Regions from separate parts of the Homo sapiens genome. Here region 2 is linked to region 1. Evidence: fine-mapped expression QTL. Tissue or cell type: whole blood. Region 1 holds a variant in brackets; the other region holds the start of a gene. All regions are shown on one strand. Distances are from middle to middle.

What was found. PIP is the estimated chance that this variant, and not a neighbour inherited with it, causes the effect.
Region 2: DRC1 starts here. The variant in region 1 is fine-mapped to the expression of DRC1 in whole blood (TOPMed, PIP above 0.99). The same link has a PIP of 0.9 or more in neutrophils.

The regions. Positions count from the first base shown.
Region 1 is chr2:26,451,153-26,459,257 of GRCh38, reverse strand. It overlaps DRC1 (dynein regulatory complex subunit 1), which reads right to left. Exons shown (of 17, transcript NM_145038.5): 14 at 5,709-5,938; 15 at 4,468-4,611; 16 at 4,025-4,127; 17 at 2,547-2,797. The coding sequence ends at 2,741. It overlaps OTOF (otoferlin), which reads left to right. Exons shown (of 47, transcript NM_194248.3): 47 at 1,038-2,055. Among named protein-coding and RNA genes, the nearest start is that of DRC1, 53 kb to the right of the region's middle. RefSeq lists enhancers at 486-1,055, 1,056-1,626. The variant C/T (reference allele first, on the strand shown) is at 3,336.
Region 2 is chr2:26,396,848-26,404,952 of GRCh38, reverse strand. DRC1 (dynein regulatory complex subunit 1) reads right to left here and starts at 3,033. Exons shown (of 17, transcript NM_145038.5): 1 at 2,809-3,033. The coding sequence starts at 2,963.

The DNA.
Region 1 (8,105 bases):
TTTCATTGGCAGAAAGAAGCTGAGCTATGGACAGGGAAAAGGGAAGGGTGTGGCCAGGGTTAGCCAACAGGTCTGGAAATGGCTCTCACCCGTGTGTGACCTCCCAGTCCAGGGCTGTTGTTTTCTGCCCTTCAGGATAATAATTCCATTCAACTCAAACATTTCATAGCCACCATGGCCTGAACACCCAACTGCAGGTGCTCAGAGCTCCCCAGGCACTGGCTCACTGTGCCATTGCGCCAAACCCAGGAGGTAGGTACTGCTTGTAACCCCATTTTATACATGAAGAAACCGAGGTTGATAGAGGTGCCTCACTTGCCTGTGAAAACCATTCAAAACCAGGTGCCCTGCACCCAAGCCCCGGCTCTGTGTCCCCACCAATACTGAGCTCAGCTCTGGGGCTGCACGCCATGTCCTCTGGGAGGCAGTAGTTTGAAAATGCATATGCAGTACTTTCACTTGTATCTTGACATTTTACAAAACCTATTGTTTTTATAACACAAACGACAGATAGTGAGGCTGGCCAGGTGCTTCTCGGCTGGGAGGCTCTACAGAAGGTGGAGTGGGTCTTCATCCTGAGAGTGGGCAGGTCGGTGAGGGCAGCTTGCACCCCACAGGGGCTGCTCAGACCCTCAGCAGGGCCCGGTGGGAACAGCCATTTATGTCCATCAGAAAGGAAGAGGTTGTGAAGCACCAGTCTTACCAAGGACGTGGGGCAGCACATAGAACGAGCTAACCGCAGGAGCTTCCTAACGATGAGAACTGCCTGCAGGGCCAAGGCTGCCCCATGCTGCAAGTAGCTCCCATCTAGGCCTTAGGAGGAGATTCGGGCCCCAAAGGTGCTGCAGGGAGGATAGAGTTTTGTAAGCAGCAAGTCGGGTACTTAGAAATGGGTTTAAACCCTGGCTCCAGCATTCACTGCTTTTGGGGCTGGGGCCATGGCAGGGCTTTTGGGGGTCCAGAAGGACAGAGGATGGGGTGCACTGGGAGGCAGCTCCTGCCCACTGGCTGACCGGCTCCTCTCTTCCACTTCCCAGCCGGCCCGACACGGCCTTCGTCTGGTTCCTCAACCCTCTCAAGTCCATCAAGTACCTCATCTGCACCCGGTACAAGTGGCTCATCATCAAGATCGTGCTGGCGCTGTTGGGGCTGCTCATGTTGGGGCTCTTCCTCTACAGCCTCCCTGGCTACATGGTCAAAAAGCTCCTTGGGGCATGAAGGCCGCCAGCTCCCGCCAGCCGCTCCCCAGCCCTGCCGCATTTCCTTTCAGTGGCTTGGACTCTTTCCCATCTCCCCTGGGGAGCCTGAGGAGCCCAGCGTCCACTCTTCATGCCTTGGGCCGAGCCTGCCTCCTGCTTGCGGGGGCCGCCTGTCCTCACTGCCCCAGGCTGCGGCTTGCCCAGTCCCGCCCCTCTGACCCCTGCCTGTGGGCTGGGGAGCCTTGGATGGGGTGGGGACCTGGAATGGGTCTCTCTTGCCCCACCTGGCTGAGGCGCCACCCTTCTTCAGGCCCAGGCTCCAGAGGAAGACTCCTGAAACCCTCCCCAGGTCTTCCAAGTACAGGATTGAAGCTTTAGTGAAATTAACCAAGGACCATGGGTCAGTGCCCAGGGCTTTAAAAAGAATGAACGAGCAAAAGGTATCCCCGCCGTGACCCCTGCAGATAGCACCGGTCTTTGATCCGCAGCAGGGGCCAGACCCTGCCCACAAGTCCCAGCGCGGCTGCTTCTGCCACTGCTGGGCTCCACTTGGCTCCTCTCACTTCCCAGGGGGTCGCCTGTCCTGCCTGTGGGTTTCCATGGCTTCCCAGAGCTCCCTCTGCCCCAGCCAGCGCCTCCAGGCCCAGCTGAGGAGCTGTGAGAAGCAGCAGAGGGGACTCCCCATCCCGGGCACACCCTGTCCTCCCACCCCTGCCCCCTTGCCCTTCCAGCCCTTTCAGCTGCAGCTGGGAGCTGGCCCGTCAAGTGCTGCCCCTGCCTGTGTCTGGGTTTCTGTTGGCTGTTTTTCTTTTCTTGAGTGGTGATTTTTCTCTAAATAAAAGAAGTCAAGCACTGAGCTGACAGGTCTGCACTGGTCAAGCTGAGAGGAGCAGCCGCAGGTGCGGGGCAGAGGCAGCAGTTCTCTAGGCTGGCAGATTCAGTACCAGCAGGGCTCCCATGGCCTTTCCCCTTCAAGTGGCCTCTGGTGGCCCAGGGTTCAAGGCAGGCCTCAGGCACAGGGCTGCCCACCCAGGCTGCCCACAGGAGGAGTCTTACACCATAGCCCAAAGGGCACACCAGCCTGGGCCCAGGGGCCCCCAAAGCACCGAAAGAATCCTTCAGGTCTGGGGCCAGTCTGAAGGCTTAAGGCCCCACAAGGGCCCAAAAGCTCTAGCCTCCACCCACAGAAACCAGTTCCCCTGAAAGCAAGAAAGGAGCCCCACGCTACTGGCCTCGGCCTCTGACTCACACCACTATCTGAGCCTGGGGCAAAGTCCCCTCATGACACAGAGGTAGGGGCAAGGGCCTGGTCTTGCTAGACCTGACCTCTTTAAAGAGATTCAGCCACAACTTTAAAAGGCTTTAATCATAATGCAGGACACAGGTAACTCCTCTGGCTCCTTATTTCGACAGGCTATAAAGACAGCCCTGGAAAATCCAGAGAGCAGGCCCAGGTGCGGCCCAGTGGGTGATATGAGCTGGCTCCGGCACAGACACCAGCATCAGGCCAGCCCTAACACATCAGCCTTTGGCGGTCCAGCTCATTTTGTGGGTACCCGCAACACCTGAGTGGGAGGAACTTGCAGTTCAGAGTTGATCTGGAAAAGAAAGGGTGAAAGTCGTTACATTTTTCCCAGGGCCCTCCTTCTTTGCCACCCTTGCGAGCCACGCTGGCTCTCCCATGGGCCTCCAAAGCCCTGCACGCATCTCCTCTCCAAAGCTGAGAGATGCTGAACACCCACAGACTGCCTCCCTGCAGGAGACACGCCTGAGCCTTCTTGCTCAGCTTCTGCTCCAGCTGTGACCTCTGGTAGCGTTCTTCATCTCCCGCCCGTCCATTCTCTGCAGTCTTCCCCTCTCCTCTCTCCACGCACCCATGCCATCCCCAATCTAGCCTGCCCCACCTCTTCCTCCCCCAGCCTCTTGTATACAGTAGCATCTGTGGAAGCGGGAACCATACCGTCCAGAATGTCTGGGTCCTGTCACAGGCCAAGGGTCATTATGAGGCCAAGGTTCACTACAACATCCCACTTTCAGCTGTGGCCTGGGACCTGGGACTGTGCTGGGGCCACGCAGCCCCTGTGGCTGGACTTGGAGCTGGCCTCAGTCACCTCACACGTGTGCAACTAACAGCTG[C/T]GTCACGACCTTCCTGGCCTACAGCCCCAGCTGCAGGTGCCCACACCCGCAGAGCAGGAAATGTCAGCAATGGACTTTTTCCTTCCTCCTCTTGCCAGGCCATGGGGAAGTTGTCCACAACTATTGCAGGGTTGGGCACAGATGGGGGCCAGGGAATATCTGCCCCAGCAGAGCCTCCTTCCCCATGCGAGGATGACCCTCCAGTCATATCCCAGGCAGGGAACCGGGGCTGGTGGGTGGAAAGAGCCCAGGCTCTGGACGAGTTGCAAACTCTGCAAGTTGTGATTGTCCTTTGTGTGAAATGAGGAGCATTGTTTCCGCCCTGTCCACCTCACACAGCGGGTGTGAGGATGGAAGAAGAGAGCACAGCTGGAGGCTCTGTAGCTGGGGAGCTGCTCCTGGCTGTGGCACTGCTTCACACAGAGCAGTCCCAGCTGGCCACTGGCACCAGAAACCACAGTATCAAAGAGACACTGTCACACCTGAGCTGTCCTGGAGGAGACTTCAGGCAAGATCTACTCCTTTGGCCAGTAGTTGTCTCAAGGTGCCACTCTTGATTTTTTACATCATATCACAAAGCTCCCTTGCCTCTGACGGGGAGGGGACTCCTCGTTCCCTAATCCCAGCTCCAGTGCCCCTGCCCCACCCGTGTCTCCCGCTGCCCCTCCTTGGAAGGCCCCGCCGCCCACCTTGGAGTTCAGATACTGCTGCAGTAGCGCCTGCAGCTCTGTGTTCTGCTGCTCCAGAGAACTGTTTTCCAGCAGCAGCTTGGCCCTCTGGGTCAGGACAAGGCTTTGGACAGAAAAATCGGTTAGAGGCTCACTGAATCCTCCATCCTCTGCCAAGTAGGGGCCAGGGTCTTGGTGGTTGTACTTTGGCTACAGGTGGAGGGAGACTCCAGAAGCTACACTCTTCACCCAGCCGCCAGGTGAGCCAGGTTAGCAGGAACAGAACAGGCAGGCCAGGGCCCAAGAGCCAACTGCCCCACATGATCCACCCACACAGGAGATGCCAAGGGCAGCTCTTCCCTCCCAGGTTCAGTGGGACAGGGAGGCAGCAAACGCGGCTGCTCCCAACAACCGTTCCTCACCTGCCCGCCAGCACCCTCCTGCTCCATGACATGCACACTTACTGGTACTTCTCCAAGGCTGTGTAGAGGGCATCCCAGAGGTTCTGCTTGGAGGAAGGGATCACTGTGGTCAGGGCCTGCCAGTACTCCGAGTCCTTGGAGTTGTCACGCACATTCTTCTGTACCCTCAGCGGGGCCCGCGAGTCCCTGAAGGCCAAGAGCACAGTGATTGTCATGTCCATTGGGTACTACCCAGGCCCCCAGGCAGTGCCAGTCACAGGCCTACTGCTTTCCCACCTGTCACCTTCCCACTCAGCAGTCCAAGTTTATTAGACGGTGGCAGGTTCTCAGAAAGGACGCATGCTTATTGTCAACGTTCCTGCCTCGGTACCACCGGTACCTTCGTGAGGGCATAATCCGTGCTTCATCCACCCCTCTCTCTCCCAATCAGTTTACCTCACTGGCTTTACAGCTCATCACTGTGCCCATCTCTTGCACCAACACATCCAAAACAGCACTTGAATTCAGTCATGTCCTCTCCATCCCCTCATGACAGCCTTAATCTGGGGGATCCTCACCTCCCACCTGGACAAGCCTCCTGATGCTTTCCCTGTATCCAGCTTCGCCCCTTCCCTGACGCCACAATGATCTCTCTAAAACGCAAGGCTAATCATGGCTCTTCGGCTGCTTCAAATCCTTTTCTGGCTCCCACCCACCAACGGGTAAAGACAAAGATCTTGGGCACATTGGGCAAGGCTCTCCAAGACCTGGCTAGCTCCCCACCCACCAGTGCCACCTCCCAGGCCCTTGACACTCCAGCCAGACCTCCTGTGATGATTCTTGAACAGACCAGACCTTCCCCATGCTGTCATTTCCTGAAATGCCCTTACCTCCATTTTATCTGCCTGGGAACACCTAGTTCCAGTGCCATTTCCTCCCAAAACCCTCTGACATGCCAAATGGAAACGGCCACTTCCTCCTCTGAACAATGGTGCACCTTGAATGTGCTTTGACCATTACTCTGATCACAAGGCAGTGCCCCCACAGTGCTTACACATGGCAGCCTTCAGTGCATGTCTGCTGAATGAATGATGAGTGAAAAAAGCACAGATCACCACTATGCCCTATTGCTTTCCTGACTGTCCAGCGATTGGTTGCCCCAGCCCGCCTTCAGATAGCCCTGTCCTTAGTCCCCGCATCTTGCCCAGCAGACTCTTCTCCACTCACTGGCTCTGCCTGGCTCCCCAGCCCATCCAGCTCCCCTGGTTCTGGTCTCAGGCAAGCCTTCCAGCCCCGCAGCCCACCTAGGCTTCTTCAGACCCATGACGAAGGCCTCCAGAATCTTGAGGACATCATTGGGGTGGATGACCCAGGGGGAGGGTGGGGTCTCCTCCTCTTCCTCCTTCTCCCCTTCCACCAGGCTTTCTTCCTTTTCTCCCTCCATCTCCGTCTGCTCTGCCAGCTCCAATTCTGACCTCGTGCTTGTCTCCTCCATGCTCGCCTTCTCCATGCTCGCCTGACTGCAGGGCTTGATCTGGAGAAAGATGCACGGACAACTGTGGGCTGGGGACACACGAGCATGAGCATGGAGAGAGAGGCAGGAAGAAGAAAAACCAGAAAAGTTTACAGAAAGTGACAGCTTGCCCAGGGAGACATTTACACAGGGACAGAAACAGGAGAAAGAGTGGGAAGAAGGGGGATGGGATGGGGAGAGGCACTAGGAGGCTACGAGAAAATGGAAAGGTTCTGTTTCTAAATCCGGGCTCCTAGGTGCTCACCTTACTGACATTCATAAAGCTTACATGTTAGAAATCTTCTTTTGAATCATAATACAGATTAAATTTTTGCTTTAATTGTTAAATTTAAAAGGTCTTCCTCCTACTCCTATTTTGCAGTTCATGCAATTGACCTCCCACAGGCAAACGAATGCTATCAAGTTTCCTATGGTTCCTTCCAAGGAAATAGTATGTCTATATAATGTTTATATATAAATACATGCGCATACCTTTCCATATATACTCCTCCTTCTCGTTTTGACATCAATGATACTATACTACAAATAGAGTTCTGTAGTTTGCTTTTACACTTACCAATAAACCTTAGGTACCTTTTCATGTGAATACATAAAGAACTTTGGTTTTTTCCCACAGTTTTATAGTACCCCATCGTGTAGACATACCATATATTATTAAATAGATTCCTCAACAATGGACATATAGGTTGTTTCGAATCTTCTGCCATTTCAAACAATGTACAGTGAATCAGCTACAATAAATACACCATTTCAACTGTAATGAGATATATTTAGAGAATAAAATCCTAGAAGAAGAATTTCAGAGGCCAAGGTGGGCAGATCATTTGAGGTCAGGAGTTCGAGAGCAGCCTGGCCAACATGGTGAAACCACATCTCTACTAAAAATACAAAAATTAGCCGGGCGTGGTGGCAGGTGCCTGTAATCAATCCCAGCTACTCAGGAGGCTGAGGCAGGAGAATGGCTTGAACCTGGGAGATGGAGGTTGTAGTGAGCCGAGATCGTGCCACTGCACTCCAGCCTGGGCAACAGAGTGAGACTCTGTCTCAAAAAAAAGAAGAAGAATTTCAGAGTAAAATGTATATAGTTTTGTAATTGATACTGCCAAACTGTCCTCAATGGAGGTTACAATTTATACTCCTACCAGTAACTTATGAGTGTGCCTGTTTTCTACACCTCAGTCATCGCTATGTTATACTTGCTGTGTTATCAAGCTTTTTTTTTTTTTGCGCCAACATAACAGGTTGGCAAAATGGAAATCAGCCATTTTAATTTGCATTTCTCTTATTACAAGGAAGGCTGATTGTCTTTTCATATGTTTAAGAGTTACCTGTATTGCCTCTTCTAGGAGTTGTTCATTCATATTTGTTATCTGTTCCTTTTGTTGGTCTTTTTCTTATTGATTTCAGAGAGCTCTTTATATATTAAGGAAATGCCTTAACTATGATATGAGTTGAAAATATTTCTCTGCAGCTTGTCATTCATCTCTTAACTTTGCTTATCATGATTTTTGCACTACAGAATTGTTTTTAAATTCTGTAGTCAAATATAGCTTTTATTCCCTTTATGGCTTTGTGGTTTTGTCCATTTCTGCCAGCTCTTTTTTTCTTTTCTCTTTTTTTTCCCTTAGAGACAGTGTCTCACACTCTGTCACCCAGGCTGAAATGCAGTGGTGAAATCATGGCTCACTGCAGCCTCAACCTCATCATGGCTCACTGCAGCCTCAACCTTCTGGGCTAAACTGAGCCTCCCAAGTAGCTGGAACTATAGGCATGAGCCACTGTGCCTAGCCCAGCCAACTCTTTTTACAGGCATGTCAGGATACTCAGCTTTGGGCTAGCAGTACTAAAAACATTTTTCATTCACATTTTTCATTTTTAAATTAAAATGTTATATGACTTTTAATATGGCATCTTCTTTAAAATAGTTAATATTTGATTCACCTTCTGAAATCAATTACAATCAAGATATGTAGGACAAATGGGCCTTGCCTTGCGGGAAAGTGTTAAGGATCAAAATATTCAGAACCTGGTGGGCTCTGGTCTCACAGTGGCTGAGACCTGGTTTTGAGGGAGGGTGCAGGAAAAGATTGCTTGGGCCTCAGTATAAGAACAGCATCTCACCCCCAAGCCATTCTTCCCTTTACAAAGAGACAAATTGATAAACAAT
Region 2 (8,105 bases), 54 kb after region 1:
GATACCCAGAAATGTTTAGGATTAGAACAGGGTCTGAGTTACCATTGACACCCAGAGACCCAAAGCATGCTCCCACCCACTTAGAGTGAGGACACAGGGGAGGCAAAGTCCTACTTACAGAGGGTCTGCCAAGTCTGTGGACTCAGCCAGCAATCATGTCTCTAATGGCCAAAAGTATAATTGGGACCTACATACTTAGAAGTTTGAAAAACTCCACTCCTTGGCCTATAAATAGAGCTACCATAGTGGGGAAGGCCAAAAGGACATCTCTGAAACTGCACCTCAGTACACAAAAAAAAATATTGCCACCCAGGGGTGTTGGTGGGGATTAGTGCCACCCTGAAGTATCTCAACGATGCAGGAATGGTGATCCCTATTGAATCTCCTTTTAATTCATGGGTCTGGCACCTGCAGAAACTGGATCCTAGAAAGTGACTGTCAACTACCAGAAGCTCCACAGGTAGCACTCCTGAACACAGCATCTATGCAAGTGTGGTAAGCTTCACTAGAGCAAATTTGTACAGCCTCAGGCACAGTATGTGTGGCTACTGATTGGGCCAAATGCATGCTTTTCTACCTCAATCAGGAAAAATAATCAGGAAGTTCACATTTACATGGAACAGACAATGATATACACTCACAAGTCGGTCACACTCACAGGACCATGGTAGTTCTCCTGATCTCTGTCATAATATATTCTGAATATATCAGGGACATCTGGATATCCCAGAGAACATCACAATGATCCATTACTTCAGCACTGGCAAACTATGGCCTGTGGGACAGATCCAGTCCACCACCTGTTTTTGTATGGCTTCCAGGCAAATAATGATTTTTACAATTTTTTTTTTTTGAGACAGAGTCTCGCTCTGTCGCCCAGGCTGGAGTGCAATGGCACGATCTCAGCTCACTGCAACCTCCGCCTCCTGGGTTCAAGCGATTCTCCTGCCTCAGTCTCCTGAGTAGCTGGGATTACAGGCGCGCGCCACCATGCCTGGCTAATTTTTGTATTTTTAATAGAGACAGGGTTTCACCATGTCGGTCAGGCTGGTCTCAAACTCCTGACCTCGTGATCCCGCCCGCCTCAGCCTCCCAAAGTTTTGGGATTACAGGCATGAGCCACTGCGCCCGGCCCAATTTTTTTTTTTTTTTTTTTTGAGATGGAGTTTTGTGCTTGTCACCCAGGCTGGAGTGCAGTGGCGCTATCTCAGCTCACTGCAACCTCTGCCTCCCAGGTTCGAGCAATTCTCCTGCCTCAGCCTCCCAAGTAGCTGAGATTACAGGTGCCTGCCACCACACCTGGCTAATTTTTGTATTTTTAGTACAGACAGGGTTTCGCCATGTTGGCCAGGCTGGTCTTGAACTCCTGACCTCAGGTGATCCTCCTGCCTTGGCCTCCCAAAGTGCTGGGATTACAGGCATGAGCTACGATTTTTTACAATTTTAAATGGTTTTTACAATTTTAAATGATTTTTACAATTCTAAATGGTTAATAAATAAATGGTTAAAAAAAGACTAGGATGAATAAGCAGAGCACAGGGGATTTTTAGGGCAGTAAAAATATTTGGTATAATACTATACTGGTGGGCTCGTGTCACCATAAATTTATCCAAACCCATAGGATGTACAACACCAAAAAGAAACCCTAAGGTAAACAATGGAGTTCAAGTGATAACGATGCGCCAAGGTTCATATATTGTTACAAATGTGCCCTCCAGTGCAGGATGTTGACAGTAGCTGTGCATGTGTGGGGGCAGGGAGTATATGCGAATGCTATACTTTTTGATCAGTTTTGCTGTGGTCCTAAAAACTGCTCTAAAAAATAAAGTTTATTATTATTTTTTATCAAAAGAAGGCTATTTTGTGATACATGAACAGTATATGAAATTCAAATTTCAGTGTCCATAAATAAAGCTTTATTGGAACACAGTCATGCCCATTTGTTTATGTCTTGCCTGTGGCTGCTTTTGCAATACAATGGCAATTGAGCAGCTAGGAAAGAGGCCATATGATCCGAAAAGCCTAAAATATTTACTATTTGGCCCTTTACTGAAAGGGTTTGCCGGCCCCTGCATTCCACTGATGGCCCCGCAGCAATCAGCCAGGGTGAGCGAGTGATGGAAACACACTGCAGGGCTTGGTAAGACATGTGTGCTCCAGACGGTGGGCAATCAACCCTATGAAGGCCCAGGGACTGCCATGTCATTCAAGTTTGTAGGGGTCCAGTGGTCAGTGGGATGCTGGGATAGCCTATCAAGTAAAAAACAAATCTACTGCATTTTGCATCCTCTACAGAGAAGGAAACTCAATGCCTCTTAGGCCACTTTGGGTCCTAGAGACAATACATCCCGCACTTAGGAATATTATTCAGGCTGACACAAAAAGCTGCCAGCTTTGAGTGGTGCCTGGAACAAGAAAGGACCCAGGCCACAGTGTAAGCAGCCAGGCTACTTGGGCCACATGATCCAGCAGACCCTGTGGTTTGGAGGTGTCCGTAGTGGAAAAGATGCCATGTGCAGACCACAGTCGAACGCCACCACGCCCGATTAATTGTTTGATGTTTTATAGAGATGGGGTCTCTCTATGCTGCCCAGGTTGACCATCTCCAACTCCTGGGCTCCAGTGATCGGCCCGCCTCGGCCTCCCTAAGTGCTGGGATGACAGGCGCGCGCCACGGCACCGGCCCAGCGTTTTACTTTCCCATACTCTGCCTGAACCTTCCCGAAGAAATGTTTCTATTTCATCAGGAAACCAGCCCTTCTCCGGCTCCTGCGGCGCGGATCCCGCCCCGCCCGCCCCCGCGCTCACCGCCTCCGGGCTTCTAAGCGCGCAGCGATGCGGAGGCGCCGGGCCTGGATGCGCTCCTGAGAGTTGTCGGAGTGGACCGAGGGCGCGAGAATCTGGGTGGACAAGTGCTCGTCCACGTTCGGGTCCAGGGCCTCTAGGGACCCCGGCGGATTCATGGCAGGAGTCCCTGGTCCCTAGGCGGCTCCCTCCGCACCACCTCCAGACCTCAGGCTGGTTGCTAGGAACAAACCGTTGCCAGGGAGAGCGGTCACCGGAGCCACAGCCCGAGTGGTTGCGCGCGCAGCTCCCTGGGCCCAGCCTGCCGCCAGCCGCCGTTCCGGCCGAGCATCCCAGCCTCGGGCTGACGCCTCTCCCGCCCGTGGGATGTCAGGTCTGTTGTCAGGCCCACGAAGGCCCGGTCGTGTTAGCGGAGCTGTGGAGTCTCACCAGGAGACTAGAGGACTAAAGAACTGGACCAAGTTGTGGTTCATCACTTGCTGACCCTGATGATTAATTCATCTTCCATTCATTCATCAAATATTCCTCCAACTCATATTCACCAAATAAAATTGAGCGCCTACTCGATGCCAAGCGCTGTGCTTGGATACAGGATACCAACCTGCAATCAAATACTTATGAAAGAGGAAAAGTGGAATAGAGGAAAACAGTCCGTGGGAGGGGGGAGGGATAAAAGTTAGAAATGCGGAAGCACTATTAAATTCTCAACTGTCCCCAGAAAGGCGCTATCTTCTGGGCGTCTCATTGTCAACAAAAATAGTGTTCTCATTGAGAATTAAAACCTGGCGCGCTGGCTCATGCCTCAGCCTCCCAACACTTTGGGAGGCCGAGGTGGACAGATCACTTGAGGTCAGGAGTTTGAGACCAGCCTGGTGAACATGATGAAACCCCGTCTCTACTAAAAATACAAAAATTAGCTGGGTATGGTGGTGGGCACCCATAATCCCAGCTACTCGGGAAGCTGAGGCAGGAGAATCGCTTGAATCTGGGAGGTGGATGTTGCAGTGAGCCGAGATCGAGCCACTGCACTCCATCCTGAGCAATAGAGCAAGACTCTGTCTCAAAAAAACCCAACCAACCAACCAAACAAAAACTGGATACCATTTAACAGGGTTCTGTCCCATTAGCCCGTGGGGAATTAAGGGCACTGGATGAGCAGTGAGAAAGGGTGAGTACTAGTCCTAGCCCTGCCCTGCCACCTTGGGCAAGTCACAACTTCTTGAGGAGCATTTTCTCAGCTGTTAAATGATGCAACCCACAGACAACTGTGCGGCCAAGACGACCCGTCCTTTGTGAGTAAGAACTGCCCAGAGGCAAATGGAGTGGGTTTTTAAAATCAGTTCTTCCACGTTTGCAAGCAGTAGAGAGGTTTAGGAATGCCAAAACCATCCAACAGCTATAGAGTCTAACAGCAGCTGCCTGGATCCTTGTCTCACACCTGCCTAGGTGGTGGTGGTAGGAGCGGGGGTACTTGCTTCTAGGCTTCAGGGCCTTCTGCCAGATCTCTGTCTCCTTTGGTTGAAACCTAAAGTATTAAACTCTCCTAGGAGCCATGATACAGCTCTGACCAAAAACTCGTCCAGGTCCTGGTTCATGTTTCCACTATCCGTAAGGACAGAAACAAGCATGTGTGCATGCGCATGTCTATGCCTGGGAGTGGGATACCATGAGAAAGTCAGGGGGAATCAGCTGTTGCACAAGAGGTAAGTGAGAGCAAAGGTACCATACAAACCCATGAAGAGTGACCAGTGAGATACTTGGCCCTGCACTGTTCTGATACCACTTCCAACATCTTTTTATATAAGAAATCTGACTCCATTTTTTGCTGCTGACATTTGGCTGCTGGCAGCTTTTACGCAGCACTCCCTCTTTCTTCTCCACATCTGGGCAAGCTGTTAAAAAAAGCCTAGGTGCTCTTTTTGGTGCTGGCAGATTTCATCTGCGTGCACAGGATACCCTCCTCCCAGCCTCACCCCTTAACCACAATAAAAGCCCCAAGCTTGTCTCCTTTCCTGGCTCTCTCTAGCCATTTTCTGACCAGCTGGGAGGCCCTCTTTGCTCCCACAGGCAGCCTCAATTATGTAATAAACCTTTTTCACTGGTGTGGGAAACACTTTCACTCACCGCTGGAAAGGGACCTCCTAGGAGGACAGTTTGCCAAAATCTATTAACTGTTTAAATTGGCATACTAGGGTAAAGGGTGGAATAGGGAGAGATTTGTTAAAGGATACAAAATGACAGGTTCTAGTGTTCTGCACCACTGGAGGGTGACTATAGTCAATAACATAGTTTCAAATAGCAACGAGGATATTGAGCATTCCCAACACAAAGAAATGACAAATGTTTGAGCTGATAGGCATGCTAATTACCAGACCTGATCACTATACATTATATGGATTGAAATATTACTATGTACCCCATAAACATATATAACTATTATTTCCTTTTTTTTTTTTTTTTTTTTTTTGAGACAGCGTCTTGCTCAATTGCCCAGGCTGGAGTGCAGTGGCATAGTCTTGGCTCACTGCAACCTCTACCTCCTGGGTTCGAGCGATCCTCCTTCCTCAACTTCCCAAGTAGCTGGGACTACAGGCGTGTGCCACCATGCCCAGCTAATGTTTATTGTATTTTTAGTAGAGACAGGGTTTTACCATGTTGGCCAGGGTGATCTCAGACTCCTGACCTCAGGCGATCCACCCGCCTCGGCCTCCCAAAGTGCCAGGATTACAGGCATGAGCCACTCCGCCCGGCCTGCCGAATTTTTTTAAATACTAAAAATTTTTTAAACTGAACAAAGGACAGAGAGAGGAAGAAATATTTTCATGGGGCAGACAACTGTGGTTGTAGAGGTCAAAGGAATGAAACAAAGAGACAAAGAAAAACCACTAAACAAGAAAGTCAGAAGACATGTAATGAATTATGATTAAATATAAATGGGAAAATGCATGCTTAATTTTCCATGCCTTTGTAAATAGTTCATAAGTGAGTTAAATTTAGAAAATTGTTAAAAACTGAAAAAACTAGATAAAAACATATTTATTTGTATACACACAAAAATAAATTAGCATATCCATTCACTAGGCAATTCTAGTTTAAAGATCATCACAAGGAGATCATGGATCTAGCTATAGCTCATTGGGGTCACAACTATATCAGTTTTATTCGGTATTTTATACATAGCACCTAGCACAATATTTGATATGTAGTAAGTGCTCAACAAACTTTTTTTGAAAGAAACGTATATAGATGTATCTGTATGTCCATTCCAGTTACTTGTAATATTAAAAAACTAGATATGACAAAATCCATCAATAGGGGAACCGATAAAAGAATCATGGGATTCTCTAACACAAGAATAAAGGTGACCTAGAAAGACATCCAAGATACATTACATGAGAAAGGGAAGAGGCAGGCAGCACAATATAGAGCCTAAGCCGAGTTTGATTTGAAATGTAGACAGTAGTACACAAGAAAAACAGGGGGAATACCACAAAGTAGTCAATATCCCTCAGGGGTGGGCTTATGGGTGATTTTCAGATTCCCTGAAGATTAAAAAAAAATGTTTACAATGAGGATAAATCCCTTTTGACTCAATAAAACATAAAGCTTATTTATTCATGTTTTTGTAAGAGAAATAACAGGAGACCCCCAAGAGAGTGAGGCAGGCAAGTAGGGCTGTTATAGATGAGAGGGACTTGGGGAAGGGAGGCAGGTGATGTCCATTCACCTTGATGACTGACCAGCATCTAGAGTGTGGTCCTCAACTGGTAGGCAATGCTGGTTCATACTAATAAGCTCATACAGGCCGGGCACGGTGGCTCATGTCTATAATCCCAGCACTTTGGGAGGCCAAGGTGGGTGGATCACGAGGTCAAGTTCGAGACCAGCCTGACCAACATGGTGAAACCCCATCTCTACTAAAAACACAAAAATTAGCTGGGTGTGGTGGTGCATGCCTGTAACTCCAGCTACTCAGGAGGCTGAGGCAGGAGAATCGCTTGAACCCGGGAGGCAGAGGTTGCAGTGAGCAGAGATTGCGCTCTAGCCTGGGTGACACAGCAAGACTCCATCTCACAAAAAAAAAAAAAAAAAAAAAAAAAAAAAAAAAAAGCTCATACAAAAGCCTGGCTGGCTCATACTAACAAGCTCACAAAAGAAAAACATAGAATTTCTTTTAGCAAGCAAGTACAACCATCACACAGGGCAGTGTGCATTTTCGTGCCTTTCGTGTAGATCAGCCCACAGAGATGTGCTGGTCACAAAGAGGATCAAACTCTGACTGGGAAGTCCCTTGATATGTAGGACTGACTGCCATGGTTCAGAGGCTCACAATGGGGATAATCTGCCACAAGCACAGTCGAGTTCCTCATCCCTGAGTAGGTTTTTGAGGAATCTGGCTATATGGGCTTCCCTTGCTAAGGAAGGTATGTGGGCATCCACCTTCAGCTTTTATAGCCTTTTTTCAAAACAAGAAGGATGAACAGATTTGATTTTATATCTTACTAAGTCTAGTCACACTTAATTCTACATCCAATAAGTTTACACTAACTCACCTTAATTGGAATGTGAGGATGCTGACAAATTCATCATTTAGACAACTTCTTAGGTTATTTCTATCTTTCGATTTGTGTGAATTTTACTAATTAGATTCTGAGAAGGCAATCTTACCAATTTTTAATTTGGGGAACTGCCTTACCATCATCTTCATATACTGCCTCAAAAGGCATGAAGGAGGAAAGAGAGGGGAGGAGGCATGGAAGTCATGAGCTGTGTCACATGGTTTAGAAAAAAAGTTCAAAGAAAAAAGACAGAGAACTAGATATTAGTAGAAACCAAGCACCTACCTTAGTCCACTGACTGTGCTAAACACCCTGCATGCATTATCCTCATTCAATCCTTCACATGGTGTAATAGTGGTAATATTGATCCCATTTTATAGATGAGGAAACTAAGGCTTAGAAAAAAGTAAAAAGCTCTTTCTTCAAAGTTTGCAGAGTTGAACATGACTAAGAAACAGCCATTGTATGAAAACTTTGGGAGGTTTTAAGAAAACTCTCAGAATGAAAAGAAGAAGAAAATTGAAGGAGCAGTTGTAAAGTTTTCTTTCAGGAAATTTGTGAACAGAGGAAAAAAGATGAGAGTGGGAAGAGAAGCAAGACCCTTTGGGGGCATAGGGTTTTTTTTTAAGTTTTGGTAGCCCCAAGAGTGGTTACGTAGTATCTACCTGGTATGTGTCATCAGGCACTCGGGAGGTGTTTGAGGTTTGCAGATAGAAGGGAGGGAATAACTGCTACCGCAAC